Linked DNA regions of Homo sapiens. The protein of the gene in region 1 interacts with the protein of each later gene in a pairwise test. Each region holds a gene or a part of one and is shown on either strand. Other genes may lie near its edges.

The links.
Region 2: the proteins of TMEM140 (region 1) and TMEM205 interact in binary tests that used the Homo sapiens proteins (3 or more experiments, as listed by UniProt).
Region 3: the proteins of TMEM140 (region 1) and MSMO1 interact in binary tests that used the Homo sapiens proteins (3 or more experiments, as listed by UniProt).
Region 4: the proteins of TMEM140 (region 1) and MGST3 interact in binary tests that used the Homo sapiens proteins (3 or more experiments, as listed by UniProt).

The regions. Positions count from the first base shown.
Region 1 is NC_000007.14:135,143,668-135,151,084, forward strand, and holds the start of TMEM140 (transmembrane protein 140), read left to right. Parts: upstream 1-4,404; 5' UTR 4,405-4,603; intron 4,604-7,417.
Region 2 is NC_000019.10:11,343,254-11,350,482, forward strand, and holds the start of TMEM205 (transmembrane protein 205), read right to left. Parts: upstream 3,016-7,229; 5' UTR 2,367-3,015; coding exon 2,267-2,366; intron 2,163-2,266; coding exon 1,999-2,162; intron 1-1,998. Other genes in the region: CCDC159 (coiled-coil domain-containing protein 159), read left to right, coding at 3,364-3,374, 5,713-5,830, 6,401-6,434, 6,685-6,773, 6,865-6,946. UniProt on the Homo sapiens protein: In cancer cells, plays a role in resistance to the chemotherapeutic agent cisplatin.
Region 3 is NC_000004.12:165,322,876-165,330,675, forward strand, and holds the start of MSMO1 (methylsterol monooxygenase 1), read left to right. Parts: upstream 1-4,793; 5' UTR 4,794-4,889; exon of another isoform or gene 4,890-5,071; intron 5,072-7,800. UniProt on the Homo sapiens protein: Catalyzes the three-step monooxygenation required for the demethylation of 4,4-dimethyl and 4alpha-methylsterols, which can be subsequently metabolized to cholesterol.
Region 4 is NC_000001.11:165,626,904-165,634,240, reverse strand, and holds the start of MGST3 (glutathione S-transferase 3, mitochondrial), read right to left. Parts: upstream 3,008-7,337; 5' UTR 2,948-3,007; intron 2,011-2,947; exon of another isoform or gene 2,002-2,010; coding exon of another isoform or gene 1,967-2,001; intron 1-1,966. UniProt on the Homo sapiens protein: Displays both glutathione S-transferase and glutathione peroxidase activities toward oxyeicosanoids, as part of cellular detoxification as well as synthesis of bioactive metabolites.

The DNA.
Region 1 (7,417 bases):
GCAGAGATCCAGCTCTAAAACAGCACCCTGAGAAGCTTCTCACCCACTCCCCAGTGGTGGGCAGGGAGGGGAACCTGGTAGAAATATTTTTTAGAAAAACCCATTTAAAGTTTTAAAAACCATTAGGAAAATTGTCCTAAGGACATACATCAAATAAAGACATATTTATTCAGAAAATTTACTAAATTCCTGTAAGAAAAGTGAGGGTCTCTGGTACTTAGCCATGGCCCACTCCTTCCCTTCCCCCATGTTCAGCAGAAGGGAAACTCCACTGTGGGAGGATATGGCCAAGAACACTGGGATCACAGTCACTCCAGCTCCCAGTCAAGGGCTATGGTATCTCCCCTAGGAGGAGAAGGCTGCCAGCGTTTCTCATCTCCCTACCGCTGTGAAGCAGAAACAACATTTGAGGCTAATGAGGCCAAGAGGTCAGGGACTCCCTTCCTCCACTCAACCATAAGGCAAAGGTTCAGTGGGCTGGGAATACTGGATTCCTGGTCACCTTTTCTCCAGCTACTTCATAGTGTGGAGTTTCCATGCCAGGAGAGTCAAGCTGAAGTTGAAAAGACCAGAGGCTACTACGCCACTCAGGACCATGCTCAAAAAGTAGATGGGTCACTCTAGAAGATGCAAGCCACTGTCACCAACCCCAGGTCCAGAGCAGTGGCTCAGATATGTTGCCCAGAGGAGAGGCATGCCTTAAGAACAGAGAGCTCTGAAGCTGTCCTCAAGTAAACTGACTTGTTTGGAACAGAGTGTGGGGAAGTTCAAGGTTAAGAGTACTGCCAAAAACAATGGAGATTTTGACAGTAAGCAATTAAGAGGAAATGAGTAGCTTGATAAAAGCAACAAGCTCAACCATAGGCCAGCTAGGTTGCCAGAGAACCAGTGAAAGAGACAGTAAGAAATAACCCTCTTGGAGTAAAAACAAAAAAAAGAAAAAGGGAAGATAAAGAATAAGAAAGAGGCCAGGCACAGTGGCTCATGCCTGTAATCCCAGCATTCTGGGAGGCCAAGGCAGGTGAATCCCTTGAGCCCAGGAGTGTTAGACCAGCCTGGGCAACATGGCAAAACCCTATCTGTACCAAAAAATTAATAATAATAATAATATAAAAATTAGCCAGGCATAGTGGCACGCACCTGTAGTCCTAGCTACTTAGGAGGCTGAGGTGGGAGGATCACCTGAGCACAAGAGGTCAAGGCTGCAATAAGCTGTGATCGTGCCACTGCACTCCAGCCTAGGTGACAGAGAGACCCTGTCTCAAAAGAGTAAAAAAAAAAAAAAAAAAAAAAAAAAAAAAAGAAGAGGAACAAAGAAATATTTTAGACCTCCAGTTAAAAATGGCAAACTGGATACACATTCAATTTTGCTCCCTCTCAAAACCACCAAAATAATTTATTTTTTAAGGCATAAAGCTGAAAGGATGACAAGAGGAGACCATTTTGGAAGCCAGGAAGCAGAACAAATTTAAACTTCTCAACAAAACAAGAAAGCCAGACATAATGGGACAAAGCCTTCAAAATTATAAATGAAAATTATTTTTAACCTAAAATTTTATATTCAGTCTAAATTTGATCACATTTGAATAGATCAAGTTAGAATGAAGATATTTTCAGTTTTGTAAGTTCTCAAAAAATTCTCTTCAGTGTACCCATTTCTCAGGAAGTTACTGGAGATTTACTCTCCCAGAACTGAATAAATGGAGAAAGAGAAATGCCTTTGATGCAGGAAGCAGGAGATCCAACCTAGGACAGAAGTAAAGGGAATCCCCAGCATGGTGGTGATGTGAGAAGCCAGGACAACAGCTGTGTGTGGTGTCAAGCCCCAGACTGGGGCAGGTTGGAAGGGTCTGAAAAGCCTTTCTCAGGAAGATATAGAATACTTGATGCATAGAAATTTATTCATAGAAGATTTGATAAAGATTTGAGGGTTGGATTAGTGTTAAGCAATAGAAAACCAAGCAAGCAAACAAACTTTTTAAAAAAAGCAATTATCTTCAGAGAAGATCAAAAGTTATGCAGGATAGGAAAAGTAATCTTAATTTTCTACATGGCTCAGCTGCTGTAAATGGTATTTACAGGCACACCTCGGAGATATGTTGCAGGTTCTGTTCCTGACCACTGCAATAAAGCAAGTATTACAGTAAAGCAAATCACACGAATTTCTGGTTTCCCAGTGCATATAAAAGTCATGTTTATACTATAAGGTAGCCTATTTAGTGTGTGATACTGTTATGTCTAAAAAAACCTAACGGACATACCTTAATTTAGAAATACTTTGTTGCTAAATAATGCTAACAATCATCTGAACCTTTGCCTTCACAACATAAGGCCTAACATTTGGCTTATCTTTGCTTTCACAATGCCTTCCTCACTAAGCTTAATCATTTCTAGTTTCCAATTTTAAATGAAAGACATGTGACACTTCCTTTCACTTAAACACTTACAGGCCATTGTAGGGACATTAATTGGCCTAATTTCAGTATTATTGTGTCTCAGGAATAGGGAGACCTAACGTGAGAGAGAAATGGAGGAACGTCCAGTTGGTGGAGTGGTCAGAACACACGGTCAGAACACCAACACAGAGTTGGTGGAGCGGTCAGAACTGAATTATCAATTAAGTTCACCGTCATATGGGTGCGGTTCATGGCACCCCAAAACAATCACAATAGTAACATCAAAGATCACCATAACCAACATAATAATAATGAAAAAGCTTGAAATGTTGCAAAAGTTACCAAAATGTGACACAGAGACATGAAGTGAGCAAAGGCTATTGAAAAAATGGTGCCAATAGACTTGCTCGATGCAAAAATGCCACAAATCCTCAATTTGTAAAAGATGCAGGATCCACAAAGAGAGATGCACAATAAAATAAAGTATACCTGTGCATATTCCAATATTGTAAACACTGAATATTGATTTAAACAAAACTATAACCAATTTGGATAGAGGAGGAAGAGAGGAAGCATACTTCTGGAACATGCAGTGGGGAAGAAGAAAGCTAAATCTTCACCTTTTATGGTTGGGAGTCAGTAGATTATGCCTGAAACTGAAAAATCAAGAAGTACCAATCCAAGCATGTTATTTAGAGAACTGAGGTAAATGCCTAAAGAATGAGCACAGGTGAAAGTGCTTGCCTCTGAAGAGGAAGAAAGGGAGAGTGTGGGACTGCCGATTTTCGTAAGTTTTGAAAAACTGACTCTTTGAAAACTAGGTACATGATAACCTTGAATAAATTTCATAAATATAAATATGTTTCTATCTCTTCTATATCACTTCACTCACCAGTATTGAGTTTTCAGAGTAACTACTGTATATTAGTATCTAAAAGTTAATTTTCTGTCTTAAAGGCATTAATATGGATGCTAGACTAAATATACAGAAATTCCACTTTTCATAATAATAGCTACCATTACTATGGTCCCAGTATTGTACTAAGCACTTATATTATCTCCAGTCCCCAGAGCAACCATGCAAAGTAGGTACTGTTTCCATTTTACAGATAAGAAATTGATGCTCAAAGAGATTAAATAATTTGCTAGTATGTAGCAGAACTCTCTGATCTCAAAGCCTCTGTTCTTCCTTCCTCCTGGATCCCATCACCTCTTTCTAGAGTTTGCGTTTAAAAGAACTAGGGGCAGGGGGAGGGCAATGTAGCAGTTCAAATAACTCCTCCTTTGGAGGAAGGGCAAGGAAGCAGAAGAGAACCGCTGAAGGATTCAGCAATAGCACTAGGTAGCAGTCTCATGTAACCAAGTTTAACCCACAGTTGAAATTTCCAGTTGGTCATGTGAGCAACGGAAGCAATTTTTAAACTCTGGCCAGGAGCCCCAATGCTTACAAAAATAAAAGCTTTGTTCGGCTCTTATTTTGAAATAAAATAGATGTTCCAGCTGCTCCAACATGGGCCTAAACACTGCAGTGAGAATGCTCAGGACACAAAGTTTTGTGTCCAGAGAAGCCCAGTCATCATTACAAAATTGATCTCTAAAAGGGGTTGGGGGACAGACGGCATAGCTGCTTCCCAAGGAAATGAGTAGGAGGTGACCTGGGTCCTGACTGCCACACTGGCTGGGAGCTTGGACCAGATGATCCTGATGGGTTTCTTCTGAATAAAATTCCGGGTTGTGTTTATCTTGCAGTTTAAATCACTGGGAGCTTCGAGAGTTCTTTGGCTCCTTCCCTTTCTGGAATTATTGTGTGATATAATCAAGACATTTACCTGGCTCTTTAAATCAGTTGGTTTGCCGGCTACAGTGTAGGTAAAGAGTATGTCATAATGGACAATAAAAAGTTGTTTACATACCTCATTTCTGAAAAGTCATGGGCCACTGGCAAGTTAGGAAACGAAAGTGAAATCAGCTGATAGTGACATCAGTCAGAACAAATGTACCAAAGTTCAGAGAGCTGTTTACTAGGCACGACTGCGAAGGCAAGGGGGCACCAGCTCAGGACTGCATCTGCCTGCCATTTCCCTTCCACTCCTCCTTTCTGGAGTCTGACATTAGAAAGCCAGCGAGAAGGAAGATTCAAACAACCAACCCTGATTTCCTGCTTCTCCTTTTCATGAGTGTTCCTGTGGTCTCTGCACCTCCTTTCTGTAAGTACCGATCCTGCAAGCATCACAGCTTACCCAGACGTCTACTACCTTGTAAGACAATTTTGTTTTCTTCTCAGATATTTCATGTTCTGGCAATCCACATAGGGGAACTCACTGGTTGTTCAGTATCTGTGACCCTCCCTCGCTCATGTCTGTATAATCTACATAATCTACCCCCTTTACTCTCTGCTCTCCTTCCTTCCACTCTTCGGCATCAACATGTGTAGCTCTGGCCTCAAAGATGATGAAAGTAAGGCCAGTATAACTGGTTAGAAACGATGCAGGGCTGACTGCACACAGCAGAGTCTTGCACGCAGTGTGTACAAGGACATGGCTGTGGCTTGTGCAATACACTGTTCATCAGAAATAGGTAAACAAAAGCAGGTCACCGACCAACACTAACTAAACCACTATTCAATGGTAGTTACGAACACATCATAAAACTTTAAAATACACACTGAAGATTAATATCAACAGAAAAACTTGTGTTCTTGCCTCAAAGAATGGGACCTAAGAGATGTTTAGATCTTATGTTAGTCATTAGACCAGATTGCTCCTCATGCCCCAGTGGAAATCCATGGTGGTATTTTAGTTCTCTTGATGCATATTTTAAGAGATTTTTTTTAATGTGGGCTTAGTTTCACTAATAACTTCCACTATGCTTCTTCGCCTATAAAATCAAAGGCTCCTTTGAAAGAGGGAAAAGACACATATTTCCTTCTTCCCTCATGATAACTGAAGAGCATTTTTCAGTATCCACTTACCATACCCCATTCCCCAAAATCTCAGGTCTGAGACTCAGTCCATGAGATATTTTTTCAATCTTGCACATATTCCCCTTTCTCAACTTTCTTTCCAGCTTAGTCCCTGCTTTATCTAATTACTAAGGCTGTTTTGAATGCCTGTTTTATAAATTTCTTTTTTTTTCATAAATGTAGCACATAATTCTAAAAATATTTTACTGCAAATAGAGAACAATTGCCTGTAATGTCACCACCCAGAGCTACCACAGCTAACATTAACATTTTCAAATACTTCTTTAGTCTCTTTCTCCTATGCCTCTTTATATGGATGTAGTCACACTATGTAGAGTGATTTTATACCTGCTTTTTCTAAAAGATGCATAGTATTTTATCCTTGATACATCATAGTTTACTTCTGATATTGGACTTTCAAGCTGCTTCCCATTTTGTGCCAAAAGTAATGCTGTGCTGAACATTCCTATGTATAAATTATTGACTGGATTTCTGATTGCTGTCTTAGGATAGATTTATAAAAGTGGGCCAAAGAGATATGACTATTTTTAGGGTTTTTAATGTTTATTGCCAATCTGCCTCCCTGAAAGTTTGTACAAATGTTCACATCCACCATCATTGTGTGAGAATGCCAGTTTAACCATATTTTTGGTATCATCAAGTGTTTTTACCTACAGTGTTGATAGGGAAACTCTGGTTTTTTACTTGGCGTATCTTTAATTACATTAGAAAAGTTACAGAATTTTTTTTCATGTTAGTTAACTACTTTGCATTCTTTGTGAATTATCTCTTCATATTTGTCCATTTTTAATGAGGTGTAATGTTTTTTGACAGTTTGCGTAAACATTTTAAACATTAAGTACATTAATCATTTCATAGTTGTGGTAGATATTTTCCATGCTCATTGACTTTTAATTATATTTATGTTGTTTTTGGTGAATAGAAATCTTTATTTTAGAATAGTTAAACCTGTGCAATTCTTTATTTGTAGTTTCCATTTGCTCTTAAGTTCCAAATTTTATTTTTCACTCATAAATCAAATATATCCTTTTTTCCAGATCATTGATTTTTTTATCTGGTTTTACCTTTCACTCTTGGATCCATGTGAAATTTATTTGGGTATGTGGAGTGAGATGAGGACCTAAAATAGTTTTGTTTCTCTTTTCTAGTTAGCTGATCAATTGCTTCAGTATTAGTTAATGAAGAACCCTTTCAGGACTCAAAACAAATATCTCTTCTGAAGAGAGGCTTTCCCTGACCCTATAATCTAGTCATCACTTCCTCCTGCCAGTTTCTCTCTCTCACTCACCCTGTTTATTTCTTTCCCAAACCTTTTCAAAAATTATAATTACCTTTTAAAAAATACATTTGGTGTTTGCCTTCCCAACTAGAGTACAAGCTCAATGAGAGCAGGCACCTGGTTTGTCCTGTGTGGCACTGATTCCCCAGGGCCTCTGATTCAGGGAGTCATCCAAAATGTGTCACTAACAGAGTTACAAGATGAAATGCTGACCCCACGAGTCGAAGTGGGTGGCAAATTGCCTTTGTAATTGCGGAAGAGAGGGCTGGTGCGGGAAAACTAACCATTGACAGCCAAAGGCAGTCACCAGTTTCTGGTACTACTGATTCTCAAACTCTGAATCTTGTGAATCTTGGCCGCCCACAAACTGGACCGTGGAGTCCTGCCAACAGAAACCAAATGAGATTAGCTGGACGTGGTGGCAGGAGGCTGAGGCAGGTGAATTTCTTGAACCCGGGAGGCAGAGATTGCAGTGAGCCAAGATGGTGCCACTGCATTCCACCCTGGGTGACAGAGCAAGACTGTCTCAAACAAACAAACAAATTAAGATGGCTCATTTGTAGACATTTTCTCATTTTTAAGGATTTTCTTCTCCCTCTAAACTTTTTGTAATCTTTGTTCCCACTTGGATTATCTGCTAGTGAGAGCTAATAGTCAACAAAACAATTGCACAAATAGCAAGTTAATATTAATGGAACCATTTAAACAGCTATCTCAATGGCTTGTCATCTGGGTGCCTGGACTCATGCTTCTGACTTT
Region 2 (7,229 bases), on another chromosome or scaffold:
CTCTTTCCTTGAACCCAGACTGAGGGACCCAAAGCAGAACTCCAGCTCTTCTACTCTGAAACTGGCAGCTCTGAAGGAAAGGCTCCATCCCCACCTCCTCTATCCCCCCGCAAAACCTCCCGAGCCTCTTCTCCTCTGATACTCAGACTGGAAGTCCCCAGAGCAGGATCTCTTTCCTCAGTGGCCACAGCCCAGACGCCTGAAGCTGACATTGGACCCACAGAGGGTGAATAAAAAGTCTTTGAGTGGCTGGGCGCAGTGGCTCATGCCTATAGTCCCAGCACTTTGGGAGGCTGAGGTGAGTGGATCACTTGAGGCCAGGAGTTCAAGGACAGCCTGGGCAACATGGGCAAAACCCCGTCTCTACTAAAAATACAAAAATTAGCCAGGTGTGGGGGCTGTCCCCCTGTAATCCCAGCTACTCAGGAGGCTGAGGCATGAGGATTGCTTGAACCCGGGAAGGAGAGGTTGCAGTGAGCCAAGATTGCACCACTGCACTGCAGCCTGGGCGACAGAGCAAGACCCTGTCTCAAAAACAAACAAAACAAAACAAAAAGTCTTTGAAGGCAGGCATGGTGGCTCATGCCTGTAATCTGTAATCCCGGTGCTTTCAGAGATGGGGGTGGGAGCATCACTTGAAGCCAGGAGTTCAAGACCAGCCTGAACAACACAGCAAAGACCCTCATCTTTTTTTTTTTTTTTTTTTTTGAGACTGAGTTTCACTCTTGTTGCCCAGGCTGGAGTGCAATGGCGTGACCTTGGCCCACTGCAATCTCCGCCTCCTGGGTTCAAGCAATTCTCCTGCCTCAGCCTCCCAAATAGCTGGGATTACAGGCGCACACCACCACACCCAGCTAATTTTTGTATTTTTAGTAGAGACGGGGTTTCACCATGTTAGCCAGGATGGTCTCGCGCTCCTGACCTCGTGATCCACCCACCTCAGCCTCCCAAAGTGCTGGGATTACAGGCATGAGCCACTGCGCCCAGCCTATTTTTTTTAATTAGGAAAAATGTTTTTGCCATTCTCACATTGCTATAACACCATCTCTATCTGTTTTAAGTATTTGAATACCTTCTGAGCCTGTTTCATTAAAATAAATAAATAAAAGGAAAAAAAAACAGTCTGTGAAGTTCTAGTTACCCATAATCCCCTCCTGTCTGTGAGATTATTCTTGAAACACCTGTCAGGTCTCACTTACCCACGTCTATGAAACATAATGCAGGCAAGGGAAGGCCAGAGTAAATAGAGAAATCTGAGATGCAGAGATAGTTTCTTGCCTTGTGGCCAGAAAAATGTGTGGAAGGGGATAGGAAACCATAAATTCCCAGTCGGGCTGGTTTTTAAACAATAAGCTGGGGTCAATGTGCCAGCTCAGCTGAGTCACCACAGCTTGGCAGCAGGCCCAGCCAGCGGGAGGAGAGGGAACAGCAGCTAGCAGGGAGATGCTGGGGGATAGACAGGGCTGCTGGGGACTGTTGTACAGGCTGTGCACTGCTCAAGGGTATCCAGAGCCCAGCTTTGTATCTACCAGGAAGAAGGGGCTCCCCTCCCCTCCCTTCCTCTTCCCTCCCCTCTCCTTTCCTCTCCTCTCCTTTCCTTTCCTTTTTTTTTTTTTTTTTGAGATGGAGTCTTGCTTTGTCGCCCTGGCTGGAGTGCAATGGCATGATCTCGGCTCACTGCAACCTCTGCCTCCTCGGTTCAAGCAATTCTCCTGCCTCAGCCTCCTGAGTAGCTGGAATTACAGGTGCACACCACCACGCCTGGCTAATTTTTTTGTATTTTTAGTAGAGACGGGGTTTCACCATGTTGGTCAGGCTGGTCTTGAACTCCTGACCTCGTGATCCGCCCACCTCGGCCTCCCAAAGTGTTGGGATTACAGGCGTGAGCCACCATGCCTAGCCTTTTTTTTTCCCCCCCTGGAAAAGGTGTAGCCATAGGCGCTGACTGAGGTCCTGGGAACAAGTCTCCAGAGGGCAGTGGCACTCAAACCCACGTACCTGGCTGGCCTCCCAGAATGTGAGCTGAGCCCAAGCATGCTGTGAAGCCAAGATGCAGAGGTTGATGAAGGCACAGCCCATGGAGATGTGGAAGTAGAAGGGGAAGAGTTTGCTCTGCACTAGTCCGAAGGTATGTCGGGGAAGGCTTCGGAAAAGCAGGAAGCCTGCAGGGTATGGGGACCACAGGGGTGTTAGGGCACTTCCCGGTTCCCCTCTTATTTCCATCCCCACCCCAGGTACCCATGACATCCAAGCTGAGGGTCCCTACCTGAGACGAAGGTCACCCACATTTGCATGCCCCAGGCACCTGACAAGACCAGTAGATGGACCATCTTAATCAGGCCTCCTAGGTTCCCGCCTTCCTCCATCTTGCAGTCCTGGGAAGGAGGCACCGGGTGGCTCAGAACTTTACCTTTGCCTCATGCGTGGCCTTCAGACCCTGTGAGCCCGCTCGGGGACAGGGTTACGGCCAATCCAGCAGAGATTCTGGCAAAGCATCCCGGGAATGAGAGTGAGAAAGGCCCAAAGCAGTCAAGGCCCAAAGACAACCCTCGACCCCATCTCTCCAAATGTCAGCCCTCAAGATCTCAGGCTCTCTGGACCTCAATCTCCATGCCACTTCAGAGGCCCCAAATTTCAGCCACAGCAGCTCCAGATCATAGCCCTAGGTCTTCAGAGATCACTCCACTAATTCCCAAATATCACCCCAGGGATCCAGTTCTGACAGCCAAGACCACTCCTCTCATAAAATAATACCGGATATTAGGTGAAGATCCCGAAAGCCCCGAGGAAACCCTAAATCTCATCCTGAGGACACCGATCCCACCAAAGCCCCGAGGAAACGCCAAATCTCATCCCGAGGACACCGATCCCACCGTTAGGAACCGGGACCTCAATCCGCAGCACCCGGATTCCGAGAACAGAGGCGTCGGGGCCAAATGGGCTGAATCTGGTACCTCACTCCCACGCCCCCGGGTGGACAGCGACCCTCCTCGGCCGCGTCCCCTCGTGGGTTTCCCCCAACCAATAATTCGTCCCGCCTCCCAGCTGAGCCCGAAGCCAATCGGGTCGTAGATCTGCACCTTTCTATCCCGCCCTCCTGGGTATTGACTAATCGTAGAAACCCCCCTGGGATCCCGCCCCCTCCACGGGCTTTTATCCAATTACGCCGCGGCTACTAAGCGCAGCTGAAGCGTGAAGGCGCCAATGAGGCCTTCGGCTACTCCGGCAGGGGCGGAACTAAAATGCCGGCCACACCCCTCTCTGTGACTCAGTCTCTGAGCGTTTTAATACGATGGTGTCCCCGCGGGATCAAACTTCAGCGTCACAGCTGAGGACTGGCTTCGTGGTCCCTGATGGGAGAGCATGAACAGGTGGTATGTGGTAGGTGGGGTTCTGGAGCCTGGCGGGTGTAGATTTCACAACCCAGGGGGCGGAGCCAGGATGATGACCCCGCCCCCTCCCTAAATAATTCTCCCGGGAGGGACACGGAAGCAGCAACCGGGATGGGACGGGGAGAGAGGAGGCACTACTGGGGACCTAAGCTGGTTCTCAAATGCCTCTCCTTTTCCCCTCCAAGCCTCCCAGGCTTCCTATGGTCCCTAAGTCCCGGGTTCTCAGCGTGACATTCCAGAGCAAACACAGCTCCCCATTACTCTATACCAGGCACTGGCATGGATTAATTTATCTAATCACAACATCCCAGTAAGGTGACTATTATGACATCTCGTTTTTATAGTTGGGGACACTGAGGCATGGAGAGGTTCAGTAACGCGACCAGTATTACACAGCTGGAAGGGACAGAGCTAGGATTTGAACCCAGGCCATCTAGCTGGAGAGTTTCCCTGCTTAACCGTCATACTCTGCTGTCCCTGGAAGTGAGGACCTCCCTGAGGCAGTGACTCTCGGAGGGGCAGCTTAGGACATTTCAGGCAGAAGAAAAACGTGTACATCACAGGGTGGGTGTGAAGATCCAGTGAATGCTTAGGGGATGCCCGGCACTCAATTAGGTGCTCAGAAAATAGGAGCCTAAAAAAGGATTAAGGAAGATTTTACTGAAGATATGCTGAATAGTTTTTGTTTGTCTGTTTGTGTTTGAGACGGAGTTTCGCTCTCGTTGCCCGGGCTGGAGCACAGTGGCATGATATCGGCTCACTGCAACCTCCGCCTCTGAGGTTCAAGCGACTCTCCTGCCTCACCCTTCCAAGTAGCTGAGATTACAGGCATGCGCCACCACGCCTGGCTAATTTTGTATTTTTAGTAGAGATGGGGTTTCTCCATGTTGGCCAGGCTGGTCTCGAACTCCTGACCTCAGGTGATCCACCTGCCTTGGCCTCCCAAAGTGCTAGGATTACAGGTGTTAGCCACCGTGCCCAGCCTGAGTAGTTCTGAAGAGCGTGTAGGAGTCTTCCAGGTCGACTGAATCAGGCAGAGGGCCTGGCAAGGGTGACAGAGAGAAAGGTCTAGAGGATTTGGGGGAAGAGGCTGAGTGTGACTCAGGGCAAGGTGCCTTTCACCTAGAAGTTTCTCCAGGCAGACCTGCCCCAGATATCTCCATCTGTGCCATATGTGGCTATACTGGAGGGGGAGGGGAGTTGAATGTGAGACCCAGAGCTCAGCTGTTTCCTGTTTCCAGCCTCTTCTAGCACGGGTCTGGGCCCCAATTCAGCTAACATTTATTGAACAGATATGCCCTGCCTCTCCTGCTCACACTCTATGGCTGGCATTCACCTGTGGGGCCAGGTCGAAACTCCTGGCTTGGCCGTCAATGCCTTACTGGAGCTGCTCTGCTAACCTCCTGCTGCTTCCTCTCGGACCTCGATTCAGCCATCATGAATTTACCAGCATAGAGCATGTGATTCCACACCTCCAAGCTTTTGCACATGCTGCTCCCTGCCAGGAAAGGCCTTCCTTTAAGCCAATGTCAAGGTCCCTTTTTTCTTTGGACTCTTCTGAGGCCTGATTTTTTTTCTTTGGGGCCTTCTGGGTCCTTCTCACTGCCCAGCCCAAACCTTGGGGCTGGGATAATCTTTTTTGTTGTTGTTTTTTATTTTTGGAGACTGAGTCTCACTCTGTTGCTGAGGCTGGAGTGCAGTGGTGCAATCTCGGCTCACTGCCACCTCCGCCTCCCGGGTTCAAGTGATTCTCCTGCCTCAGCCTCCCGAGTAGCTGGGATTACAGGCGCCCACCACCATGCCCAGCTAGTTTTTGTATTTTTAGTAGAGACGGGGTTTCACCATATTGGCCACGCTGGTCTCGAACTCCTGACCTCAAGTGATCCTCCCGCCTTGGCCTCCCAAAGTGCTAGGATTACAGGCGTGAGCCACCATTGCTGGCCGCGTCTGGCCTTGGGATCATCTTTTATCCAGCTTTGGCTCCTACCATAACTGAGAAGCCTTGAGTTTAGGGCTGAGGCCTCTCTGGCATGTCAGGGAGGGTCTGGGGGCACTGGGGACATGGGGACTTATCTCAAAGCAGCCCCTGCTTCCCTACTCACAGCGACCCTCTTTTGGCCGGCCTACCCCGGGACCCTGACTACTCTGTGTCCTGCCTCTACTCACCTCCCTCACCCTCCAGCATGTGTTTGCCTGCTAACATGAAGTGTGACAAGTACTGGGGTTAGTTAGGGGGCTCCCATAGGGCTGGGGACACTGGGAGGGGCTGGGAATGTGAGGAGTGCCCTGCACTGTCCCTCAAGGAAGCCCTCACCCCTAGGCTCTTCCTCGGACAAGGCTCTGGAGCGTACAGCTCACTGGTCCAGGACTCCAGAGCCAGAGACCTTGGGATGCCCTGCTTCTGGGGACACAGTGAGGACTGCAGACTGCAGGCCAGGGTGGGGCTCAGGGCCTTCGCCACATGAGGCTGCCCCCTCCCCCAGTCCAGACCTGCAGAAGCAGTGCTGTAATGACCAGGACATTTTGAAGAGGCATCACAACGTAGCTAAGGTCACCCCCACCCGGGAAACCCCTTCAATGCAGAAAACCACTGCAATCTACTGCTGTGGGGCTTAGGGAAGGGGCTGTAAGGCAGAGAGACTCCCATGAATGCACCCACTGTGTTTCTTCAGCACCTAGAACAGCACCTGGCACTCAGCAGGCCCTGGCTAAGCAAGTCTTAAATGAATGGATGAAGGAATGAATGGAAGGAAAGAGTGTGGTTGTGTGTCTTCCATGGGGATTTGGCTGTGATCGTCTCTCAGCCACATAAGTGCACTTCTGAGCATATGTAGCCCAAGGGGGAGGTGCATGAATATGCCTGGAGTGCAGCTTTGCCTGCACTTACGGTTTGGGACACCTAGAACTGAGGAGATCCAACTCTTGTCCAGCCCTCAAAACTGGGTTGAGGTGAGCAAGGAGGCAGCTCAGGGACAAATTTCTACTCCCATCTCATCTCTCTTCCTTAGAAGCCCTTGGAGACCAGCTCTTCCAAAGTCAAAGGTGAGAAATCTCCTTTCCAACAAAACTGTGTGGGGAAGACCTGCTGGTTTCTACCTCTACCCTCTGCCCCAGCATCAGCTGTCCCCCTGCCATGGTCACCCATTCACTCCTGCCCAAGGCTGAGTGGGCCCCTGTTCTATATCTTATCCCCTGTCCCTACTGCTACTCTGAGCCTTTGCTGACCTCTGCCCTGCCCTTGCCCCAGACCCCACCCCTTACAGCCCTGGCTCACCCTCTTCTCTGCCCACAGCCAAGACCATTGTGATGATTCCCGACTCCCAGAAGCTCCTGCGATGTGAACTTGAGTCACTCAAGAGCCAGTTACAGGCCCAGACCAAGGTGAACCACCTTGGCCCTGCCCCCAGCAACCTCTGTTTCTCCTTGCCCTCCCCTCCTTCCTCCCACCCCAAGGCTGACCTCTTTCCCCCAGGCTTTCGAGTTCCTGAACCACTCAGTGACCATGTTGGAGAAGGAGAGCTGCTTGCAGCAAATCAAGATTCAGCAGCTTGAAGGTGAGGACTGACCAGAGATCAAGGTCAGGCTAGGCCAGGCGTGGTGGCTCACGCCTGTAATCCCAGCATTTGGGGAGGCCAAAGAGGTTGGATCACTTGAGGTCAGGAGTTTGAGACCAGCCTGGACAACATGGTGAAACCCCATATCTACTTAAAAAAAAAAAAAAAAAAAGCCAGGTGCTGTCACTCATGGCTGTAATCCCAGCACTTTGGGAGGCTGAGGCAGGTGGATCACCTGAGGTCAGGAGTTCGAGACCAGCCTGGCCAATATGGTGAAACCCCA
Region 3 (7,800 bases), on another chromosome or scaffold:
ATTTTTTTCTTAAATTAACACTTTGGCATGAACATTACTGCAGGTTTTTGATGAATATAATGAATGTATGGAATTCAATTGAATTTGCATGGTCTTCGGAATTTTTTCTGTGTGTATAAATTTAGCTGCTATTAACAGAAGAGAGAACTTTCTGTGAGTAGCCATGTGTGTTGATCAGATACAGTTTTTCTGAGATCTTCAATTAATCTCACTTTAAAAATGACCAAAACATGTCTTTCTTGAATTAACTTTGAATAAAAGTTTGTATATTATTTGTTTCACAGTGTTCTTGATTTTTATCTATTTAGTTTTGTGTTAAAGTTTCCTGTTAGTTTTTTTGCTCTTTTATAGTTTGCATTTTGTCACTTCACAAATCTGCATTTTTAATTTATTGCCAAAGTGACCTCACCTACAAGACAAAACTATTAAATGAATAACCGAAGTCAATAAAAATGGTTCTGTTTCCAAGGAAAAGTAACTTCAACTATCAAGGAGAGGTCTGTCAAGGATTGGTAAAATTTAAACCTTTTATATTTTTGTGTCCCTGATATGGGTAGGGCATGAGATAAGGATAAAACAAGTAGTATTAGACCAAAAGGAAAGTCAAAGAAAAAAAATACCTACTCCAAAGTAACTGAGAAATAAACTGTGGTTTTGATACCAAATAAAAGGAATTGAGGAAATAGGAATAGTGGAGTCAGGTAGGCAGCTGAGGTGCTGGACACAGCAGAGGAAGGGAAGAGGGGGAAGGAGGAGGTGATGGGATATTGTGACCATTCCTCAGGAATTAAAAAAGTTGGCATGAGCTGTTGCTAGACCAGTTGATAATCAAGAGGAAAGATTGCTATGATAACATTTCGATTCAAATTTAAACATGGAACCACATTTAATACTTAGTTGAACTTTCCATTATAAATGAATTTAATCAGAAAAAGCCTATGCTCAGTTGATGAAAACATGAATTTCTGCCTTACAGCACATCATTGTCAACAAACATATTGAAGGTCTAATGAACTTGGAGTAGTCAGCTGTTTCTGACAGAGGCACCAAGAAAAATGTATGAGGTCTCTGTCTGTCCTGATCACTTCCAAACACTAATGTTCTATATGAATCTATCAATTAAAGATTTATCTGAAAAATCTTAAAGCTTTTCTTAAAATATAATCTCAGCCTATTAAAGTAACAAAGACTTAACTACATAGCATGTCAAATACCTCTATCTTTACTTTCTTAATCTTTGAAGCTTTAATAGCTATACTATAATTGCCAAGGTTTGTCAGTAGCTGGATTCATAGCTATGATTTCAGAGACTTTAGACATACCTCCTTCCCCCATGCCAACCTTTGTCTTTCCAGTTTGAAATTTTTTTAAAGGCATATGGAAGTGTTCTCAGCCTGTTCCATTGTTGTATGAAAAATAAGAAGGCAGAGAGGTGTCTTAGAAATCCTGCCAAGGAAGCAGCCCCACGTTTGAGCAGAGTTCAAGGCTGGATCCACATACCTGCGTTGTGAAGCAACTCGTCTGCCTGCTTTGTTGGGATCTATGCCTCCTTGGCTGAAAGCAGTGATGACTGTGGTTAAGGCGGAAGGTGTATTTACTGTCAGAAGACTATCAGTTCTTTCCCTGTTTCTTATGGAGTCTGGTGTATGATTCCTGGTATTTATTATCTCTTTATCGTTCCTTACAGCATAAGAACCCAGGTATTTGTAATCCTAACTGCTGTTGCGTTATGAGACTTAACTTTATGAGGTGTAAAAGGGTCACATGAAATTACATAGCAGTGTGCTGACACCATCTTGGTTTAGTTTTGTCTTAAGCACACTGCCTCCTACTGACTTCCATGGCTGCCAGTGTCTCATTTTGGAGAGGAGGCTACGCTGGAGAATGGAACTATATTTTGAGTCAAGATTCTGGGGTTCTAATCCTGGCTTTAAGGAAAAAAGCCATGTGGTATATTGGAAAGCCCATGGGCATAGAAACAAAAGGGTTCTGGGTTTGCAGCTCCCTCTATCAATTGCTAGCTGTGACTTTCAACACATTACTTAACCTCTAATCCTTATTTTGTTTTTAAAATGGCAATAGGAGTGTCTGTGTCACAAGGTTGTTGCGTTTGAAAGAAATGATGCATGTTAATATGCTTGAAATCCAGCGGGCCCTCAATAAATTACAGCTATTGTTCCCTGAGCCCCCTGTTAATCTTCATTGTAGGGAAATAAGTGAGTTGAGCTGCTGCATCAGCATTTTTTTCCAGCTCTAAGCCTTTAAGGTTTAAAATAATCTGACCCCTCCATACACCTACACCTGCTCTGATTTAGAAAATGTAATACTGTGGTAGAATTCCAAATCAGAAATAATTGCTGACATTTACTGATCATATCTTGTATGCCAGAGACTGTGCAAAGGGCTTTACATACGTTATCTCATGTAATCATCATAAATAACTCTTCGAGGTGTAGGTATTATTATTTCACAGAAGTACCAGATAAGACAGAGAAGTAACTTATCCACTGCTAATAAAATGCCAAGCCTAGTAAGTGTGGCCCGATAGTGTGTGCTATTGATGCTCACCTGATAGAGGATGGCAGGTTTGGGCAGAGAGAAAAGTTGGGTGGCAGTGCAGTCATCACACAACCAATAGGATGGGGAGCTCTGGAGCTGGGATGGCCAAGCAAAGTAGCCCTACATTGGTTTAGGGGATTTTATACCCGTTTCAACCAGTTACTTGACTAGCTGTTGCCTAGAAAGGGGGTATACCCGTGGGGAGAGGTGCTTCTCTTTGGCAGTACTCAGCAGCTGGAGGAATGCCTGCTTAGGTCTTGAAGAGGGGGATCTGGGTGGTGTGCCACAGCATCCACTACAGGACCAACAGATTCATATGCCCACTGCACAGTATACACTGAGACAGCAGGGTTTGCAGAAGAGAAAGAGTTTAGTGATGGCAGGGTGCCGAGAGGAGATGGGAGGAAACCCTCAAATTCATCTCTCTGAGGAGTTCTGTGCTGGGGCTTTTAAGGGGATCCTGGAGGGCAATGGGCTGGAAAATTAGGGTCCTCGATTGGCTGGGGTAAGGAGGAATGAAACCATCAGGATGTGGGAACTGCATTCTTTGGTGAGTCAGCTCCTTGTCAGACCAGCTGAGTCAGTAGTTTCATCAGTACGAAGGACCTGAAAGGTTATCTCAAAGCACAAACTTAACGTTTCATAATGTTCAAGTTGTTGTCTATAGAGCAGTTAGGGGAAACTATAACCTTGTAACAGAGTCTACATGATTCTGAAGCAATAGGCAAACAATTATGAGGAAGGGGTCAGACAGCAAGCTGACCTAATTATTAATCCTCAGTGTGCTGCAAGCTTGGTTTAATTTCGTTCCCCCCACCCCTTTTTCCCAGATTAACTTCATAAAGTATATAGGCATGGTTTCAGACACCACTGTAAAGGCATCCTAAAGACAGGGCTGACTCTGACAACCAAGGGACAGATCCCATTTCTTTTCATTTGACGTGACCGCTGTCATGATACTTTACAAAGAATGTGTGTGCCAAACATGAGGGATAGACGAATAAGTACAGGTCACACTGAATCTAAAAAAGACACTTTTCAAGAGGGAACTTCCTCAAGGAGATAGTACCTGAATTGATGGGGCGGCATGGAGATGGCTGATTATTCCAGGCAGAAGGGCCAGTTTGAGCAAAAGCATGGAGGAATGAAACAATAGTATTCTGTTTTCAGAAGCTGTATATATTTGACACAATATACACATAATCAAAACATGTGTACGCCGTAAACACAATTTTTGTCAATTATACCTTAATAAAGAAGGAGGAAAAAGGGCCTTCACTAGCCCAAATGATGCCCCTGTGCGGTTTTTTCTTTAAAGGCACCTCTTCCGTTAAGTGAAAGTTTTAGTATATTATCACATCTGTACAGTTTTATTATTAAACCCCAGTACACAATATTTTAATGTTGAGAGATGGTGTAAACTGAGCTTTAGAGCTGCAAAGACCTGCGTCAAGCCCCCGCCCCCGCCCCCGCCCCCGGGCACTCATCGTCCAGCACAACAATTGCAACAACACCTGGGCGTTCTCTGCCCATGTAGCGAGGTCAAGGTCCTGGGAGCCGAACTCTCCCTTGATGTTCAATCTTTTTAAATCTTTCCCAGCCTTTATTTCTCATCTGCAAAATGACGATAATCGCATTTGAAATTCTCCGTTTTCAAAATGCAGGAATTTATTAAAGGATACGTAGGCTGGGGAAACAAGGGAGACGAAAGATCTAAATCTAAATGGTAGACCAGAAAAAGGAAGGCAAGGGTGTCTGGAAACACAAAACAGTCAACATAGATTTTAAGACTCATCTATACTCTCTTCTTCCCGGGTTTGGGAACTGCGGTTGCTACACAGGTCACATTTGAAATAAAAGTCCTGGGACGGCGGCCGGCGCGACACTCTCCCCCGCACAGCGCAGGCTCTCACTGGGAATCTGCCGGGACCGCAGTTGCCAAGGCGACTCCGCGCTGCAGGGCGAGGCGGCCATCCGTCTGTGCCCGCCCCCTCACGCCGTGGCGCGCTCTCACGCTTCCCCGCCTCCGGGCGCTCCGCGGTGCCGACCATTGGCTGGCTCTGCAGGTCTCACTATCCTCACTCCATCCGCGGAGCCAATGGCTGGGACCGCCAGGAGCTCGTTCGCGCGAGTCACACGATGTCGGCAACTGCACAGACCAATCACCGCGCCGAGAAGGCGGGGCGGGAGCTCTCGCAGGCCAATAACGACAGGACGGGCCGCCTGGCCCACCCGGCTCCACCCCCAAGCCAGGCGAGGCAGGTTCCGAGGTTGGAACACCTGGCGAGTCCTCGGTGTCGGTGGCCGGCAGTCATCTCGCGGCCGTTCAGGTGAGGGGGTTGGAGGAGTGGCTCATGAGCGAGGAAGGGGGAGCAGGCGGGCTCCCACCCGGTGCTCCGTGAGATCGAGGGGAGCGGGTTCTGGGTGCGGATGCACGCGCTGGGCGGGACGCTGGCAGTGGTACCCGAGACGGGGCGGAAGGAGACTGGAGTGAAGGTGGGCCTAGGCTAAGGTACGTGCTAGAAAGGATGAAAACGGAGTGAAATTCTTAAGTGATGGAACTAGGCTAGGGCATGTTTCTTGCCCTTTAAAATGTGTTGTCTTCGGGAGACAGGACGTAGAAGATAGTTGCAGCACAGGGTGATAGGCTGGCGAAAGTTATACAAAAGCAGGAACCACTAGAAGGAGGTAAGATGTAGTGTGCTTTGGGAGTAGTGGGGTTGGGAAGGGCGTCCGAGAGGAGGTTACTGAAGGATGACTAGGAGTTGAATGGGAGGACATCACCTGTAAGGGAACGATATTTCCGTGGGCAGAGAGGAATGAAGCAGTAGCAACCATGAGTGATCAGATACTGCAAAAATGTGAAGTGTAGGATGGCGAGAATGTAAGAAATGAAGAGTGAAGAAGTCTGGAAGGGCCTCGTGTGCATCAATCACAGCGGGGCTTGATCTTTATGCTTAGGGCAAGCACTCCCTTGAACTTTGAGTGTTTTAAGGAGGTTATCTCTGATGTTTAAATTTATATAGATCGTGGCATTGCATCTTAGAAATAAGGTTTAGGAAGGGCAAGCTTGGAGGCAGGGCAAGTCCAGAAAATGAAGGAGCTGGTGAAATCCGTGTTAAAGTGCCAAAGGACAGAGACTGGCTGACAGCTAAACTTCAAGGTTTCTGAGAATCCACAAATAACTAAATTTATCTAGTCAACCTGTTCCAGAACAGGCTTCCAGTCATTTAGGTTGCCCAAGAATGAGTAAAGGAAAAGGAAATTCAATTTTCCAAGACCTTGTTTCCCCTCTCCTCTTTAATTCCTTGTTCGGTTAGCAACAGTATATCCATTCCCTCGCTCCTTTGTGAAAAGTAAATTCCTGAATGTTAACTAAACCAAGTGTTTCTAAATTGGGTAAGAGTTTGAAGACTTAAGGCAGCAGAATGGGAGAGACTTAAAACGTTATGTCTGAGAATTAGGCATTAAAGGAGGCCTAGTATTTGGGCGGGGGTTGTGAGGAGCACATACTGAACCTTTGGACCTGTTGAGTGAGTTCATGTGCCTCTGAACTCTCTGACTGGATATGACCAGTAAACTTGGATAATTAGATCCTGGAGTTTAGGGGAGAGGGCTAGAGATAGAGATGATGGATGTCAGCATATTTTTAAAACAGAAAATAGTTAAGATCACCCAAGACAATCTGGAATCGTTAGAAGGGAGTAAGGAAGGCATTATTGGGAAACTTTCCAGCTTCAATTCTCATATTTTTTCTAATCTCCTGGTTGAGTCTTTGGAGTTGCTGTTCTCTCTATGCAAAACCCCTCCCTTGACCCTCTCTCCCTCACTCTATTTTTTAATTTGTCACCTCCTTCTCCTGTTCTAGGTCTCAGTTTAGATAGCACCTTTCTCTAGAAGTTCATAGCACTGTGTATTCCCCCCTTTATTGTTCTTATCACATAATTTTTGATGGTTTGGACACTAGTTGTTATTCCTCACTAAATTTTATGTTTTATGAACTCAGGGGTAAGGGCACCAGCTAGCACAATGAATGCACAATACTTGTCAGAGTGAATGCATTTAAGTTCCAAGAACCAAGGAAAGGCGGTATTTCAAGAAGAGAAGTATCAAATCTTCCAGATTAGTCAAATAAACTCCAAAAAAAAAAAAAAAGGTTTATTGGATTTGGCAGCTGGAGATCCATAGCGATTTTTTTTTTTTTTTTTTTTTTTTTTTGAGACGGAGTCTCACTCTGTCGCCCAGGCTGGAATGCAGTGTCGTGATCTCTGCTCGCTGCAACCTCAGCCTCCCGGGTTCAAGCAATTCTCCTGCCTCAGCCTCCCCAGTAGGTGGAATTACAGGCATACGCCACCACACCCGGCTAATTTTTTTGTATTTTTTTGGTGGAGATGTTTCACCATATTGGCCAGACTGGTCTGGAACTCCTGACCTTGTGATCCGCCCACCTCAGCCTCCCAAAGTGCTGGGATTACCAGCGTAAGCCACCACACCCAGCCTCCTTAGTGATTTTAGTAAGAGTAAGTTCAGTGCAGTGATGACAATAGAATGCAGATTGCAGTTGCTAGAATATAAACAGGAAATAAGAAGATAAAGACAACTCGTGGAATACCTTTTCATAGAGCTTAGGTAAACTGTAGGAATTATTCTCCTTGTACTCTAATACTTATTATGGGTTTTATTTATAATTATAGTGTAATATAATGGATGAGTGCATGGGCTTCCCCACTTAGCATTTGTTAAGCATTAACTTAACATTAAGCATTAGACTTTGGGCAAGTTGCTTAATCTTTCTAAACCTCAGTTATTTTATCTATAAAATGGTGATAAAATAATACCTACCTCACGAAGGTGTGGTAAGGATTAAAGTGAAAATGTAGAGAGCAGGTAGCATGCTTTGAACACAGTTCTTGGCACAGAAAGTGCCCAATAATTGTTAGTTTCTTGTAGCTATTACATGCCAGGTCCTGTGCTAACTAAGCGCTTTATATGCATTGTCTCTTGGACTCATTGGAAGACCTACTGTTTTAATTTTTGCTGCTGATAAAACTGCATCACAGAGAGGTTACCTAATTTGCCCAAGGTCACAGGACAGGACTAGTAAGTGGTCTTGGTTCATTATTGTCAAATTTACTAATCACCTTGAGAAAAATTAAGATTGGATGGTTGCCTTATTTTACAACTTAGAAGATGATTGAAGACATTTTGGTGCAGGTGGGGAGCCAGATTGCAAGTAGCTCA
Region 4 (7,337 bases), on another chromosome or scaffold:
TTGTGCTCTCAGCCTTTTGCTATATTGTCTCTCAATGAGGTTGAAAAGCAAGTTTGACCACACCTGACATCTTTTGAAACATTTCTATGTCCCCAGACCCTCTCCTGAGTACAAAATACATTAACAAGAAGAGAGAGCAAACAATTAACTTCAATTTTGCCACTGACTAAAGCCTGAGATGTTTCAAATTGGAAGGAGAAAAAAAAAAAAAAAAAACTTTGGGAAAGTTCCAAACAAGGAATGTTTTCTTTTTAATGAGTGTCAGCACTGCAGTATGACAAAAGAAGTAGAGATTACGAGAAGGAAAAAACTTCCTCCAATCTTTCAGGCATATAGGTTTGCAAGGAGCAAAGTAACACAGAAACTGGCACTTCATTTATATATCATGTCATATAGCTGTCCCTTAACTGGCATTACATAGGAACCAAGAGTCATTGAGAAACTAAGCTATGACTTCCAGAAGGAAAAAAAAAAATCTCGAATGAGTCACATTGACACCACTTGGTAATTTTCTATTACAAGAAATGCAGGCAGACTGTAGTTAATTTGTAGCAGCTGCTGAATGCCCGTTAGGGTACCAACCACCCCAAAGGAAGGAACCACCTAGGCTGCTGGCTTTTGCCTGAAACAGGGGTTCGACCTTTTCATGCCTGTCTACACTTAGAATGAAGCTGTGGTACAACCGCTCCCATTGCTTGCTCATTTATTTATAAAATAAAATATCACTTACTTATTTTTAAAGGGTGGAATAAAAAAATAAAAAAATTAATTTTTGCTTTAAAAAAATAAAAAAAAATGAAGGGTGGAAATAAGGCAACTAAATCGTAGAACGCAAGTTCCAGTTAATGAACAGATCAACTCTAGAAATAACTCAGAAGGTAACAGCAAGATCTATGATTCTAAAGGATAAAATCCTTAAAGGCATTTGCAAATGCATTTGAAAGATAGTACAATTTTCCTGTTGCCTAATTACAGCGTTTCTCCTCAGAGGCAGGTAGGCAGGTAGGTACTGTAAGAGCGAGTGACAGAAACTCAGGAATTTTATTTTACATAGCGATAATCTACTTGCTGCTAACTGCTAAATTTTTTGTTCAGGAAGATGGTAAGCTTACAGTAGCATTAATAAATTGAGCTGCAAAAACCGTAGCAGTATATTCTTCGAAACAAATATTGCTTTAAAATGCTAGATGGTTCATGGTCAATTGTGGTCGGTAATGGTGTTCTAAATATAGATTCAGAAGATTTAAGTATAAACATAGGGCACAATATGTTTAAATACAGATAGATGTGCAGTAGGCACTGAATTGCTTTTGACAGATTGATTTGACATCCACCTCATTCCAGACTGCTCCAGGGGCTTTTTAGCATTTCTCTGAATAGTGGGTAAAGCCCTTCTTTCCTGTATGTTCCTTCTCGGTGCTAATCTCCAGGCGAGGAGGATCTCTTCCAGGATTGTGTCTTTTCAGAACTCTAAGCCAACAGGAAGAAATCTAAATAAAGCGGAAGGCTGCCCTTCTCCAGTTTTGTTCCTTAATCTAAGGAGGCCCCTGTAGCGCAGTTTCTATAGTTGGCGACAGTCTCCCTGCAGATTTATATATAGTAACATTGGTTAAAAAAAATCACTTGACAAAGTTTTCTATTTCCGTAACATTGTGTCAGGAGGGAAGCTTAACGGAAAGTCTTCCCAGGGATGAAAGTATTTGTTTCTATTTTATATGTTAGTTTTAACTCCTTAAATTCATCTCCTATGAGAATAAACATTCTTGATCTGACTCAATGTGCTCTCTGAATTCACTGAAATAAAATATAGCCTGTAACTCTGACCAATAACCTGGGGTGCCTCCCAGAACTGCTGGCTCCAGGTGATCTACAGATTTCCCAAGAGAAGCGCTGCAGCTCCTACCCACCAGCAATCTAAAATCTGCAGCAATTCCGCAGGACCACACCTAGGCCCAACAGCACATACCTGCAGAGCCGGAAGCGCCTTCCCCTCCAGGGCATCTCCTGTCCCCAGGGAAGGAATTAAAGTTCTAACCCCTGCCTCTCCTTCTACCCATCCTAGTATCTGCTTTTCCTTTACCTCGTCTTCCACACTTACTTGCCCCCGACGCTATTATGTAGCTTGTAAACTCGTGACTCTCAAGGAAAGTATCAGCAGAAGCCACAACTTCGGGGAATGACTCACTAAGGAGTCTCCAGCGCCTTCCACCGCCCTGCAACTGCCCCACTACTGTAGCCCTACGGCTCCGTGCTGCCACCCCACATAAAGAAGGGGCATTTTCTGAAATCCAAGGAAGAACCTGAAGAGTCCCCCACCCGCCTAGAGGCGTCTCTTGCTCTAAGTCAGCGGTAGGAAATGACCACCTTCCCAGTACAAATGGACAAACGATTCTAAGAGGCAGGAGGAAAACAAACACAATTCCTTCAGAGGCTCTCCCGACCGTCCCTAGCAACACATCCCCACCGCAGCGGGTGCATTGCTCACAGGCCACTTCTGAAACCAGTGTTACTGATCAGGCCTGCACAACCACTCCCCCGGCAGTGTCCGGCTCGCCATCCTCTGCGCCGGAACAGCAGAGGGCAAGGTCGGGTGGTCTCCGGAAGGCAGAAAGGTGCCCCCAGACTGCAGAGCCCGGGGACAGCAGGAGAGGAAAGGAAGGAATGGAGGAAGGGTTGACCTTGAGAATTTTCCTGAGTTACACATAAATAGGTCGGGCCTCGCTTAGACGCTCCCAACCCACTCCACCAGGGAAAAGATGCAAGGCAAGGGGAGAGCAGAGAGGGTGGAAATTCAGATCGCTAATTTACTGATAAGGGTGGGGGGAGGTTAGAGACAGCGGGTCTCTATTCAGCTCGCATAGGCTGAAATATGGGAGTGCCCTGCGCAAAGGCTGAAGTGCCCCCGGCGGCCCGGTGCTCGTGGCTGCCCGCAGGTGCTAGCACTCACCTGGATCACCTTCGAACAGCTGGAGCAGAACAAAACTGCGCAGCGCGGTGTGGGTGCGGCGCCCTCGCCTGGGGCGGGGCTAGATGAGGCCAGAAGCAGGCCCCGCCCCAGCCGACCAGCGCGCGGCCACGCCCCCAAGGCGGGGCTCCTGGCGCTGGCGCGCGCTGTCTAAGTTGCCAACTCAGGGCCACTGGTTGGGAGGTGGAGGCCTAATTTTCTTCCTGCTCATGGTCGTCCAGCGATTTACTCCTCTCATTCTCAAAAACATATATCTACTCCCCCAGGTGCCTTCGTGGCCATCTTCCTAAACTGTCCCAGCCAGGTCATACCTCCCGGATTGGGTTTGCAGAACAGTGGGACGTGAATAATTTGTCCCCAGCAGAGCCACCGTAGCGGTTTTAGGCGCTCTGCTGTAAGGGCGAAGCACGGGCATGCAAGGCGCGTGCGCGAAAGTAGCCGCGCCTCAATCGATGTGTCCCTGAGGCGCGTAGCTGGGGCGTGGGCGGCGCTTGGTGTCCCAGGTTGCTACACTCCCGAAGTGAATGGATTTATCGCTGTTAGGGCCTTTTTGTTTAGGGCCTAACAAATATTGTTAGTTTTGCCGAGAGCTGGCGCCGAGCCCTGCCCTCGTGGTGGGCCGTACCCACGCCCCCTGAGCGCGGAGTCGCGTGGCTCCGGAGTTTTGTTTTTTTGAAAGGAGTCTCCCAATTGTCCGTGGAGTTTTTTTTGCGGCACATGGAGTCTCTGCCTTCGCGACCCAGACCTTTGATGTGAACACCTGCTCCCGTTACGCTCGGGTCCAGCGTCCGGGGCGGGGCTCGAGGCCGGGTGGAGGAGGGGTGGGGGCGGGGGTCTTGGTCTTGGGTGAGACCTGCAGATACGGTCGGGCTGAAGGAGTAGAACTGGCTTCTAAATGCCGGAAAATCCGAAGGAACTGACTGCAGAAGGCACGTTTCCAATTTTCGCGTGTTTTAAGTGCACCCTCCCGCCACCTCTCCTCTGGACATCCCTCATCCTTTTGAAGATTGCCACACCTGGGCCCCTCCTAGAGTCTCCTCTTTGGAGGATTCCTCACCTCCGAGAGAATGCTTAGGAACCCACCTGAATGATTCCAAGTTAAGGTGTGGAAAGGCAGAAATCTAGATTTTTGAAGGCTCTAGGTTATGTGTGTGTTTCTTTTTATTGGGTTGTCATATTTGCACATCTAGAGGTACTTTGAGAGCTCATTAAATCTTTACTGTTGCTGTTTCAGCAATTTCCAACCATTCTCATACTTTCTGTCATGTTGGGTTTCTGTCATGTTGGATGTAGAGAGGGCTTTGTTTTGCTTGAACATTGAAAGGAAGTAAGTTAGGGAGACAGTTTTGCATTATTGAGGCAAGTTTCTCCACTTGCTGGCTGTTCTACGTAAGAAGTCATTCCAAGGTGGTGGAAGGGATGATTCAAAAATCAGGAGCGGGGATGCACCTTGCACCCTCATTTTACACCGGAGACTGCAGTCTCAAAAAAAATTTGGCCTCTTCTTTGCCAGTTATCTCTGACCACAGACAAGTACTTAACCACTGAGGACCTTCTTTTAAAAATCTTATTACAAAAGCAGTATTCCTTTATATTAGAATTTTCGGAGATACAGAAAAGCCCACAAAAAAATTACATACACACACAATAGAATCATACTGTATATTCTGTTTTGTGGTCTGCTCTGTTCACTTCATAAAATGTAAACCCTTTTTTTGCTTTTCATTTCTTTTTCTTTTCTTTTGATACATAAACCAGAGTGTCACTTTATTGATTTGCAACTGGGAACCTAAGTATGTTGTGGACTAGAAAACTCCTGTCATGCACTCAGTGTATTTTTTTCATGTAGGACGCTTTTCATTTCTTGAACGGTTCATGCTGCAACATTATTTGGCAATCAGTGCATGTCTTTTCATAGCATGGATGTACCAATCCTCTTGCTGGAGTTAGCTTGCTTTCACTTCTTTCCTATTGCAGTGTACAATCTTGTAGATAAATCTGTGTACGTGCTTATGATTTCTTTTTTTCACTGAATTCCTTTGCAGAGGAATTTCTAGGTTTTGATCTCTGTCAATAAGATGCACTCCAGGAAGAGAGTTACAGTCCTCTCCCACACTGGATATTGGATATCATTTTCTTCCATCTCTCTAAAGGGGAATAAGACCTTTCTCACAAAGTTATTGTGAAGTTCAAGTGAAGTGAGGACAAAGTGCTACACAAAAGTCCTGCCCTTTTGTCTCAGGATAATATATTTTGCAAGTCCTATTGAGGTGGGAAGTTAAAGAAAAAATTAAAAAGAGAAGTAAGTTTTCCTGTATTAGGCTGACTTGTTCCAGAGGCAGCAATGGGCACAGCCCAGACCCAGGGAAAGTCTTGATAATACTATCTAAGGAGCCAGGACACAAAGGAATGTGCTCTGGAGACTCTCCCAGCACTCCCTCCACATAGGGAGAAGAAAAACAAATTTTCCTTTGTTTTATGGTATGAGTTTATGAAAATTCCTGTTCTCTGTAACTGGTGACTTCAGGTATTCTGTTTTATCTAAGCAGTAGAGTGAAGGTCATAAACTGTCTGAGCAGGCCACCTGGACGCTATAGTGAAGGTCATGGAATAAGCCGTGCTAGGCACTAGGCAAACCTAGATAATGGACATCTGGGTTGCATAGCAATGGTCATGTGTAATCCTGAGTTATGAACCTGTTACAGTTTAATTAACTGTCTTTGTCCTGCCTCTGTATCCCTGCTTTCATGCCACTGTAAGCCGGCTTCAGGCTGGTCCACACCCCTTTTTGAGGTGTGTATAAAAGTCAAGTGCTGTCTTTGTTCTGGGCCCGGTCTTTGGATGTTAAGTCTGCTGGGTCTGAGTGCACTCAATAAAGATATCCTTATGTATATACCCCAAGGCCTCTCTCTGGTCCTCCTGATTCCACAACACTATTACAACAATATAAATTATGGATATGTAACACTTGCTCAGAAGTTAGTCTGTACTTAACTTCAGTCACCATTAATTCCTTCTCCATTTACAATCTGGCTTCTGCTTCCAAACGTCATCTCACACTGCTCTCTCAAAGGTCACCATTTGCCTTGTAAACGCTCTCTATCCTTGGATTCTCAGACATTGCTATGTCATGATTGTTTTCTTTGTTGCCTCCTTTCCTGGTCCCTTTTTGTCTCCCTACCTCTTAAAATGTGTTCAAGGCTCTCCAGAGTGCTAGCCTCTATTTTTCCCCCTCATTCTTCTATGAGTCGTTTCTTTGACTCTCCCTTAACAATTTCCCCCGTTTCTGTGAATATTTTGGTTGTCTAGAGTCAAAATGCCCTTCTTTTTTTAAGGAAAATCCCTTATTTTAAAATATGTTGTTTGAAAGTAGGTACCTACTGTAAAAAAGTTAAAAGGCCAATTCTCCCTCTCCCTCACTTCAGAGGAACTAAGGGGGTGGGCATGTGCCTTCAGCTTTGCCAATCAGATGCTTGCTCCCAGGCCTCCGATTCTTGAGGAAATTAACAACAACATGGGGACATTTGGAGATCTCCATTCATTATGGTGGCAGCAGTGGGAAGACCAGATCTCTCTCAGTCTTTTCTGATTACTCCGTTAAAAATTACAGCCTCCCTCTTCTCAAGGAACTCCTTATTCCCCTTCCTTGTTTTATTTACTACCATTTTTGGTAATAAGTAAAATTTACTACCCTTTTGTATTTTTGATTTAATTAACATTTGTTTTATTATCTGGCTTTCCTACTCAGTAGTAAGTTACATGAAAATGGAGATATAGTCTGTTTATTGCTGTATCCCTATTGCTCTTAAATGCCTGGCATACAGTAGACACTGTATTAGTCAGGGTTCTCTTAGAGGGACAGAACTAGGGGAGTTTATTAAGTATTAACTTACACGATCACAAGGTCCAACAATAGGCTGGCTGCAAGCTGAGGAGCAAGGAGAGGAGACCCAGTCTGAGTCCCAAAACTGAAGAACTTGGAGTCCGATGTTCAAGGGCAGGAAACATCCAGCAGGGGAGAAAGATGTAGACTGGGCGGCTAGGCCTGTCTCGTCTCTTCACATTTTTCTGCCTGCTTCATATTCACTGGCAGCTGGTTAGATGGTGCCCACCCAATTAAGGGTGGGTCTGCGTTCCCCAGCCCACTGACTCAAATGTTAATCTCCTTTGGCAACACCCTCACAGGCACACCCAGGATCAATATTGCATCCTTCAATCCAGTCAAGTTGACACTCAGTATTAACCATCACAGACACTCGGTAGCTATTTGTGAAATGAATACATATGTGACTTCTTTCCGTTGCCTAGCCATCTGGAACTCTCTGACTTCTTGGCCTTTTTATGAAGCCTGTACCTCCAGCCTAACTGTGAC